Linked DNA regions of Homo sapiens. The protein of the gene in region 2 purifies or fractionates together with the protein of the main gene of each other region. This does not show direct contact. Each region holds a gene or a part of one and is shown on either strand. Other genes may lie near its edges.

Region 1 (4,469 bases), on a different chromosome or scaffold from region 2:
TTTCACACTATAGTCACCTATAAGTAGTCAGTAAGAAAAACCTAGCATTTGACTTTCCATGAAAGGCAAAGACAAAGAATTAATTGTTCCCTCAAGAGCTTTTTTATTTAAACTAGGCCCCAAAATTAAAAAAATGGATTTTGAGACGTACATACAGACACACATATATACATACACATATACATGTTATATATGCCCGCTGGTAAAAGCAATTCCTACCTCAGGATCATCATCATCGAAATCATGGTAAGTGGAATGATCTGGATTATTTACTTTATCCAACAGCTCGATTGCCAAAGACCGTGTCAAATGTTGTGTTACAAAAGGATGCTATAAAAATTAAATACAATGCAGAACACTTACTATAAATCTGATTGAATAACATTTTATCTTTTGAAATATATATATATATTTCAGGGCAAAAATAATACCTGTAATAATTTTTCAGCAGTAGGTCTTTTTTTCGGATTTTTGGTAAGTGCCATTTTCACAAAGTGATGAAAACTATTTGACCTAAGAAATTTAGAAAATTAGACTTTTACATTCCAATTCATTTTTTGCTCATCTCACCATAAAAGTAAATAACATAAAAATACTTACCATTTCATTTTATCCTTTAGTTTAGGAGGCTGAAAATTGCTTTTTGTCATTAGAAATAATGCTCTGAAAAATCAACAAATCATTACACAGCATTTTAATATTTCACATTTTTATCTATTACACAAATTCTATTACTATTTGTTCCCCAAATAAGGTAAAACAAGACTAAGAAAATTACTTGTTCATGACAGCATACTAAGAGGATAAAAACCTTAAGCGTAAGATTCTTCAATGATGATGCACTGACCTCATTGGGTGTAAGTCAAACATAGGAGGCTGAAGCTCTGCAAGTTCTATGGCAGTGATTCCCACTGCCCAGAGATCACAGAGTTGATTGTAACCCCCCTTCCTCTCAACAGCTGCAACTTCTGGAGCCATCCTGAAATAAATATTCCAGAAAATAAAAAACTTCTGTTATATGTTTTCCTTTATACTCCCACCCAGAGGCACAAGGAATTATCACTATCTAAATTAAGGCCTCTTTAGGCCTTGGTTTTTGAAAAATAAATATGCAGTACTTAAAAGGTCCACCTTTTCCAAGATCTTGACATCTCATAAGACCCTCATTAGTAACTTGCTTTTGATTATACAGGCTTATAGGTGGAAGGGACTTGCCTTGCCTTGCCTCAGACGAGACTTTGGATTTGGACTTCTGGGTTAATGCTGGAATGAGTTAAGACTTTGGGGGACTGTTGGGAAGGCATGACTGGTTTTGAAATGTAAAAAGGACCTGCAATTTGGGGGGTGGGCAGGGGCAGAATGATATGGTTTGGCTCTGTGTCCCCACCCAAATCTCATCTCGAACTGTAATCCCCATGTGTTGAGGGAGGGGCCTCGTAGGAGGTGATTGGATCATTGGGTCAGTTTCCCCTATGCTTTTCTCATGATAGTGAGCAGGTTCTCACAAGGTCTGATGGTTTTAAAAGTGGCCGTTTCCCGAGTGCTCTCTCCTGCCACCTTGTGAAGAAGGTGCCCGCTTTTTTGCCTTACTCCATGATTGTAAGTTTTCTGAGGCCTCCCCAGCCATGCAATACAATACTGTGAGTCAATCAAACCTTTGTTTATAAATTTTAAAAAAGACTCTGCACTTCAGTCCCCTATTGCTGATTCCATTGTTACTTCCTTATACTAGTTACTAAAAAGGTTTATAAAAATATACAATTCTAATAGACCAACACGTCCAAAATCATTCATGCTCCCAATCTCTCTGTACATGCAAAATTCAATAAATAATATTCGTAATAAGCAACCTATAGCTCTACTTCCTGTTATCAAAAAACTGCGACCAGGCAATCCCTGTTTTTACTTCACCAAAACTATTCCGTCGGGCACCAATAATCTTCATATTTAGTATTTAATTCATATTTACTAAAAACTTATTTGGCATTTTTTCTAGTTCTATTATAATAATGGAAAAGTTATAAAAACAAGTGTCTACTTTTAAAAAATGTATTTATTCAGAGGAAAGTTACCCAAATTCAGTAATTTTTTTGTTTCTCTTTACTTTGCTACAGTCTTATTCTAATTATACTTCCATAAATTTGAATTTGACTGATTTAAACTATTAATTATCAAATACAAAAATTTTCAAATCCTAAACAATATTTTTAAAAGCAACTAATTGAAATAAACATCTCAACTCTTCCATACTAAAGAGCAGTCTAGATAATCTTACAAATACACATTTATCTTCCTGGTATGATTTCAGGAAGGTCAAGTAAGTCAGTAAAGTCAAAAACAAAAAACCCTCTAACTTTCAAAACCCCTGGTCTTAAAATCTTTTAAATCTGAAACAGATCTTATGAAAATTTAAATTACTATAAGAAAAGCGAATTTCAAAGTGTCAGTTATTACTTTTATGATGACTAGATTCCAAGTAGCTGGTAGAAATGCCCTAGTGGAGTGGGAAATGCATGCAAGTGATACGCTCCTAACTTGCCTCCCCTTACTAGTTCACCACATTAGCTGATGCTCTCCCTTCTTCTATGTAAATACAAGGGAAACATTACACTTAGTACATGTCTACTCCAGCCAGCTAAGTTGTGTGCTTATCACAGTCAACTGGGTTCATCTCTGAAACTGTTTATTCCAGTTACATTTGCTATTGTAAACACATAGTTATAATGAAGGTTTAAAAGTTAGCGAATGCTGGCCGGGAGCAGTGGCTCACGCCTGTAATCCTAGCACTTTGGGAGGCCGAGGCAGGTGGATGGTTTGAGCTCAGGAGTTTGAGACCAGCCTGGGCAACATGGCAAAACCCCGTCTCTACCAAAAATGCAAAAATTAGCTGGGCATGGTGGCGCATGCCTGTGGTTCTAGTTACTTGGGAGGCTGAGGTGGGACGATCGCTTGAGCCTGGGAAGTAGAGGTTGCAGTGAGCTGAGATCACACGACTGCACTTCAGCCTGGGTGACAGAGTGAGACCCCATCTCAAAAACCAAAAACAAAAACAAACAAAAATTAGTGAATGCTTTAGAAAGACTTCGCTTTTAGAAAGGCAAATTTCTAAAGATGAGCCAAAAAACCTGGTACGTTAGATAAGAACATGACAATGGCAGAAAACTGGGAAGGCTACAGATTATATGATTCCATTTCTATGCCACTCAAGAAAAAGGCACAAATATAGAGACAGAAATCAGATCAGGGGTTACCAGATGCTACGGATGGAGGTAGAGCATTTACTAAAAAGGGGCAAAATAAAAGATTTTTTGGATAGTGTCAATGTGTTCTGGTGGTTTCTTACCACCACAGCATACAAGTTTTTCAACATTCATACAACTGTATGAATTTGCACAACTGTACACCTAATAAGGGTAAATTTATGCCTCAATAAACCTGACTAAGAAATGTAGTTGATGCATTGGGGTGTGTGTGGTTTGCATTACTAAAATGGAACTCTAGTAAGTGATCTACTCTAAGAAAAGGCCTTGATTCTATATCAAAAGACTGTTGAATAAATGTACATATATGTCTTAAATTGAAATAAAATGTTTAAGGTACATATGTGTTTAATTTTGAGAACTGTCATTTCAAGCAGACTTTTTCGAACAACTGAATAACTGCCGATCTAATCACTTGGGAAGAGAGAGGTTCTAAAGTTTTAGATTTTAGGTAGGAAAGATATAATACCAGAAAGACAGATACAGGGAGAGTGTTCCCAAAATTAACTTTACCTAATTCACAATTTCACATGTTCCCAAGATATTTCCCACATTATTCCAAGAGTAATGACATAAATTTTTAACCTGTGAAACTGGAGTTGGAAATTTCATCATTAACATTCAGTGAATGAATATTGTATAGAATCAAGTCAGATCCTGAAGATTTAATGAGATGTTTACAATAAAACTGAGAAGACAGTGTACTTAAAAATGACAGCAATTCAAGCCCTCACTCTGCTCAACCCAAAACAATAAAGAGAAGAACAAAGAGAAATATATACACATACCATCTTTGAAAAGTCCAGCAGACATATTTTAACTAAAACCATAACACACAGACTAAAAACAGAAGAATAGTAAATGATGTAGCAAACAGGAGGCAGGGCAAACCTAAGCAGGTGCCAAGGAAAAGAACAACAACTAGCAGCCAATGAGCCTCAAATACCCTGGAAATGTTGACAAGCTAGGTTTAAAAAGTAGCAATAGTAGGGTTGAGGTTGGGCTGGAAACAGGAGTATTAGAAAGTGTCAACAGTCAGTCCCTGGCATTCCTACTCTTATCCATTAAGCCCCAGCAACTATTGCCCCCCAATTCCCACTGGATAAGGACCAAGACGAAGAAGAGAGACTGCAGACTCAAGAGACACCAGGAACCAAGGAGTGAAGAGGTTAAAGGGAGAGGACATGATTAAGTAGAAGTACGTATATA
Region 2 (4,946 bases):
TTACTCAGTTACCACTTCCAGAATTTTTCATTCCTTTTTATATAGCCATATTTTCACCTGGTATCAATTTTGTTCTGCCTGAAGGACCTTTTTTTTTTTTTTAACATTTCTTACAGTATGACTGCCTGCCAGTGAATTTGATTGATAATGTTTCTCAATTCCTCTATATCCTTACTGATTTTTTGTCTACCTGATCTATCAATTACTGAGATAGGGGAATTAAAATCTTTAACTGTAATTGTGAATTTATCCATTTCTTCTGCAATTCTATCAAGTTTTGCTTCCAGAATTTGGAATTGCTCATTATTAGGTGGATAAGTGTTAAGAATTTTCATGTTTTTGATGAATTATCCACTTTATCCTTATGAAATGACCCTCTGTATCCCTGGTTGAATCACTTACTGTGAAACAGTCTTTGTCTAATATTAATATGTTAATATAATTAGTGTTAGCATGTGATTTTTTTCCATCCTTTTGCTTTTAGCCTATTTGTACCCCTATATTTAAAGTTAATTTTTAATAGATAGCATGCAGCTAATTCTTGCCGGTTTTGTTTAGTTTAATATTGTAGTCTGCCTTTAAAATGAGGTGTTTAGACCATTTGCACTAGTGTAATTATTGATATGATTAGGTTTCATGTCTATTTTGCTATTTGCTTTCTATTTGTCACATCTATTTTTTGCTTTACTTTGACTTATTTTTGGAATAATTGATTTTTTAATTCTATTTTACTTCCTTTGTTAGTATAATAGCCATAACTTTTTAAAAATTTTCAACTTTTATTTTAGATGTAAGGGGTAAATGTGTGGATTGGTTACATGGTTATATTGCATGATATTGAGATTTGGGGTACAGATCCTGTCACCCAGATAGTAAGCATAGTACCCAATAGGTAGTTTTTCAACTCACACATTCCTCCCCATCTCCCCCATCTAGTAGTCCACAGTGTCTGTTGTTCCCATGTTTATGTCCATGTTTGCTCAATGTTTAGGTCCCACTTATAAGTGAGAACATGTGGTATTTGGTTTTCTGTTCTTGTGTTAGTTGGTTTATGATTATGGCCTCCAGTTAAATCTATGTTGCTGCAAAAGACATGATTTCATTTTTTTATGTCTGCGTAGTATTCCATGGTGTATATGTACCACATTTTCTTTATCCAGTCTACCACTGGTGGGCACCTAGATTGATACCATATCTTTGCTATTGTGAATAGTATGGCAATGAACATATGAGTGCATGTGTCTTTTTGACAGAATGATTTATTTTTTTGTGAGCGTATACCAATAACAGAATTACTAGGTTGAATGGTAGCTCTATTATAAGTTCTTTGAGAAATCTCCAAACCCCTTTCCACAGTGGTTAAACTAACTTAAATTCCCACCAACAGTGTATAAGCATTCCCTTTTCTCCTCAGCCTCACCAGCACCTATTGTTTTCTGACTTTTAAGTAATAGCCATTCTGACTGGTGTGAGATAGTATCTGATGGTGGTTTTGATTTCCATTTCTCTGGAGATTAGTGATGTTGAGCATTTTTTTATGTTTGTTGGCTGCTTGCTTGACTTCTTTTGAGAAGTGGCTGTTCATGTCCTTCACTTATATTTTAATGGGGTTATTTGGTTTTTGCTTGTTGATTTGTTTAAGTTCCTTACAGGTCTCAACATTAGACTTCTGTCAGATGCATAGTTTCCTAATATTTTCTCCCATTCTATAGGTTGCCTGTTTACTCTGTTGATAATTTCTTTTGCCGTGCAGAAGCTCTTTAGTTTAATTAAGTCACACTTGTCAATTTTTGTTTTTGTTGCAATTGCTTTGGGAACTTAGCCAAAAATTCTTGGCCAAAGCTGATGTCAAGGATTGTATTTCCTAGGTTTTCCTCTAGGAATTTTATAGTTTGGAGTCCTACATTTAAATCTTTGATCCATCCTGAATTAAGTTTTGTATATGGTGAAAAGTAGGGGTCTAGTTTCAGTTTTCTGAATATGGCTAGCAAGTTATCCCAGCACCATTTATTGAATAGACAGTCATTTCCCCATTGCTTCTTTTTGTTAGCCTTGGCAAAGATCAGATGGTTGTAGGTGTGAATCTTTATTTCTGAGTTTTCTATTCCATTCCGTTGGTCTATGTGTCTGTTTTTGTATCAGTACTATACTATTTTGATTACTGTAGGCTTATAGTATAGTTTGAAGTTGTGAGGTGTGATGCCTTCAGCTTTGCTGTCTTTGCTTAGGAATGCTTTGGCTATTTGGGCTCTTTTTTGGTTCCATATGAATTTTAAAATAGATTTTTCTAATTCTGTGAAGAATGATATTGGTAATTTGATAGGAATAATATTGAATCTGTAAATTTCTTTGGGCAGTATGGCCATTTTAACAATATTAATTCTTCCAATCTATGAGCATGCAATATTTTTCCATTTATTTGTGTTGTCTTTATTTCAGCATTTTTTTTTTTAATTTCTCGCAGAGATCTTTCACCTCCTTTGTTAGCTGTATTCCTAGGTATTTCATTTTCTTTGTGGCTATTCAAAATGGAATTGTACCATTGATTTAACTCTTTGCCTGACTTTGTTGATGTATAGAAATGCTACTGGTTTTTGTACCTTAATTTTGTGTCCTGAAACCTTACTCTTGGCAGAGTCTTGAGGGCTTTCAAGTTAGAGAGTCATGCAGTCAGTGAAAAGAGAAAGTGTGACTTATTTAGCTATTTGGGTGCTTTTTATTTCTTTCTCTTGCCTGGTTGCTCTGGCTAGGAATTTCAGGACTATCTTGAATAGGCGTAGTGATAGTGGACATGCATAGTTGTGTCCCTTTTTCATTAATTAAAAAAAATTTTTTTATTTATGCATTAATTTTTATCTTTACCCAGGAGTTATTCAGGAGTAAGTTGTCTAATTTCCATGTATTTGTTAGTTTTGAGAGATCTTCTTGATATTTATTTCTATTTTTATTGCACTGTAGTCTAAGAGTGTACTTGGTATGATTTTTTAAAAAAATTTATTGATATCTGCTTTATGGCCCAGCATATGGCTGATCCTAGGATATGTTCCACATGCAGGTGAGAAGAATGTATATTCCATAGTTGCCGGATAGAATATTCTGTAGATGTGTGTTAGGTCTATTTGGTCAAGTGTCAAGTTTCTTTGTCAGTTTTCTGACAAAGTCCAGAGTTTCTTTGTCAGTTTTCTGCCTCGATGATCTGTCTAACTCTGTCAGTGGGATATTGAAATCTCCCACTATTATTGTGTGACTGTCCAGGTTTTTTTGTAGATCAAGAGGAACTTGTTTTATGATTCTGGGTGCTGCAATGTTGGGTGCATATATATTTAGAATAGTTAAGTTTTCTTGTTGGAAGCAATAATTATTTGTTTTGTTACTCTGGTGATTGCTTTAGGGCTTATAGTATACATCTTCAACTTATTGCTGTTTTCAAGTGAAATTATATTACTTATAGAAGGCTAGTCACACCTCCTACTTCCAAAATTACTTTTCTTTTTTTCCTCTCATTGTTTATCTGGGATGCCATTTTCTAATCTATAACATACTAAAAGAAGACATTTGAATCTCAGTGTTGAGGTTGTCAGTCAGCACAGCACCAGGAGAGAAAACTGACAATCATTTCACATGATCCATGTGAACAGAAGCCCAGGTGGTCTGTCCCCCAGACTTAGGGGAAGTGTTATTTTAAATAACAAACTCACTAAGGAATTAGGACAGTTCACCAAGCAGAGGGTCTGTGCTCTTCTTTTCTCAAAATCTTGCTTATTGTACCTCCTCATAGCAAAGTCTCCCTTCTCACCATTGACAAGACTTCTCAGGAAGAAGCTCAGACCTTCTACATTTTTCTAAAAGTTAAGGGCTCTGCTCCTTGCCTGAGTGAATCACTCCTAAAAGGAATGATAGGTTTTTTGACTCTATAGTAAATCTGGCTGTGTTGAAATTCCAGTAACAAAACTTGCCAACTTGATATTGGGCAAATAAGTTAAACTCACTAAACTCAGTTTCTTCATCTATGAAGTGGTTATAATAATAACAGTATCTACCTTTTAGGTACTATGACACAACCTAGGTAAACTGCTTAGCACCGTGCTGGCCCATATGTCTTCAAGGAATATTAGCTTGTATAATAAATAGCCACCTGTCTAGGTCTCAGTTTTCTCTTTTACAGATAAGGAGATAGACTGACTCCCAGATGCATTCTAGGTCGGAGCTAACCACCCACAGAAAAGATACTGGTTATTGACTGATGTGGATTGTGATTGCTCTGAGGAGATTCAGGACCAGATCCTGATCATACCCCTCTAGCTTAACTCAGGAGTCCCACTCCCTGAGGAACAGGGAGTTACTCAGTTATTTTTCATGAGAGTCAAGGCTGGTATGTTTATTTTGAGCAACGACTTGCATTCTCTAAGCCAATGAGACCGATTAGAGCCACAGATTTTAAAAAGGCAAAGGACAAGGATGGGAACCTGGATAAGGCTTGTATTGGGGCAAGCCTGAAAGATTCAATATTTCGGTGATGACGGAAACTTGCCATATTTTTAAGTCTGATAGATTTGGCTTCAAGGATAGACTTCTAACAGGCAATCTCCTTTTAGAAAATTGTCAATTTGTTATTTTTAAGTCCTCAAAGTAAATACTTTGTTCAGTTGTTTAACACATCTTTGTTGAATATTTTTAACTGCTAAGCATGATATTAGGAATACAAAAAAATTTAAGATGAGGTTTACAGCCTCAAGTAGCACACCCTTTCATGAAAGAGAGAAATAGAGGCAAATAGAAATAAATAATTACGAAACAATATAGTAATTTTAATATTACATGGTCTTATGTGCATGGAGACAGTTTACTTAATCCAGCCTGTTGGCATCAGGGACAGCTCTGGAAGAAAGATAAATCGGAGCTAGCCAAGTGAAAGAGAAGGAGAGAAGAGGTGTGGAAAAGCCATT

The links.
Region 1: the proteins of FCRL3 (region 2) and MAP4K3 purify together in Homo sapiens (affinity purification with mass spectrometry; one large-scale study listed by BioGRID and IntAct). This does not show direct contact.

Annotation. Positions count from the first base shown.
Region 1 is NC_000002.12:39,325,299-39,329,767, forward strand, and holds part of MAP4K3 (mitogen-activated protein kinase kinase kinase kinase 3), read right to left. Parts: intron 980-4,469; coding exon 848-979; intron 664-847; coding exon 601-663; intron 514-600; coding exon 432-513; intron 331-431; coding exon 220-330; intron 1-219. UniProt on the Homo sapiens protein: Serine/threonine kinase that plays a role in the response to environmental stress. Appears to act upstream of the JUN N-terminal pathway.
Region 2 is NC_000001.11:157,683,770-157,688,715, reverse strand, and holds part of FCRL3 (Fc receptor-like protein 3 isoform 1 precursor), read left to right. Parts: intron 1-4,946. UniProt on the Homo sapiens protein: Promotes TLR9-induced B-cell proliferation, activation and survival but inhibits antibody production and suppresses plasma cell differentiation. Enhances activation of NF-kappa-B and MAPK signaling pathways in TLR9 stimulated B-cells.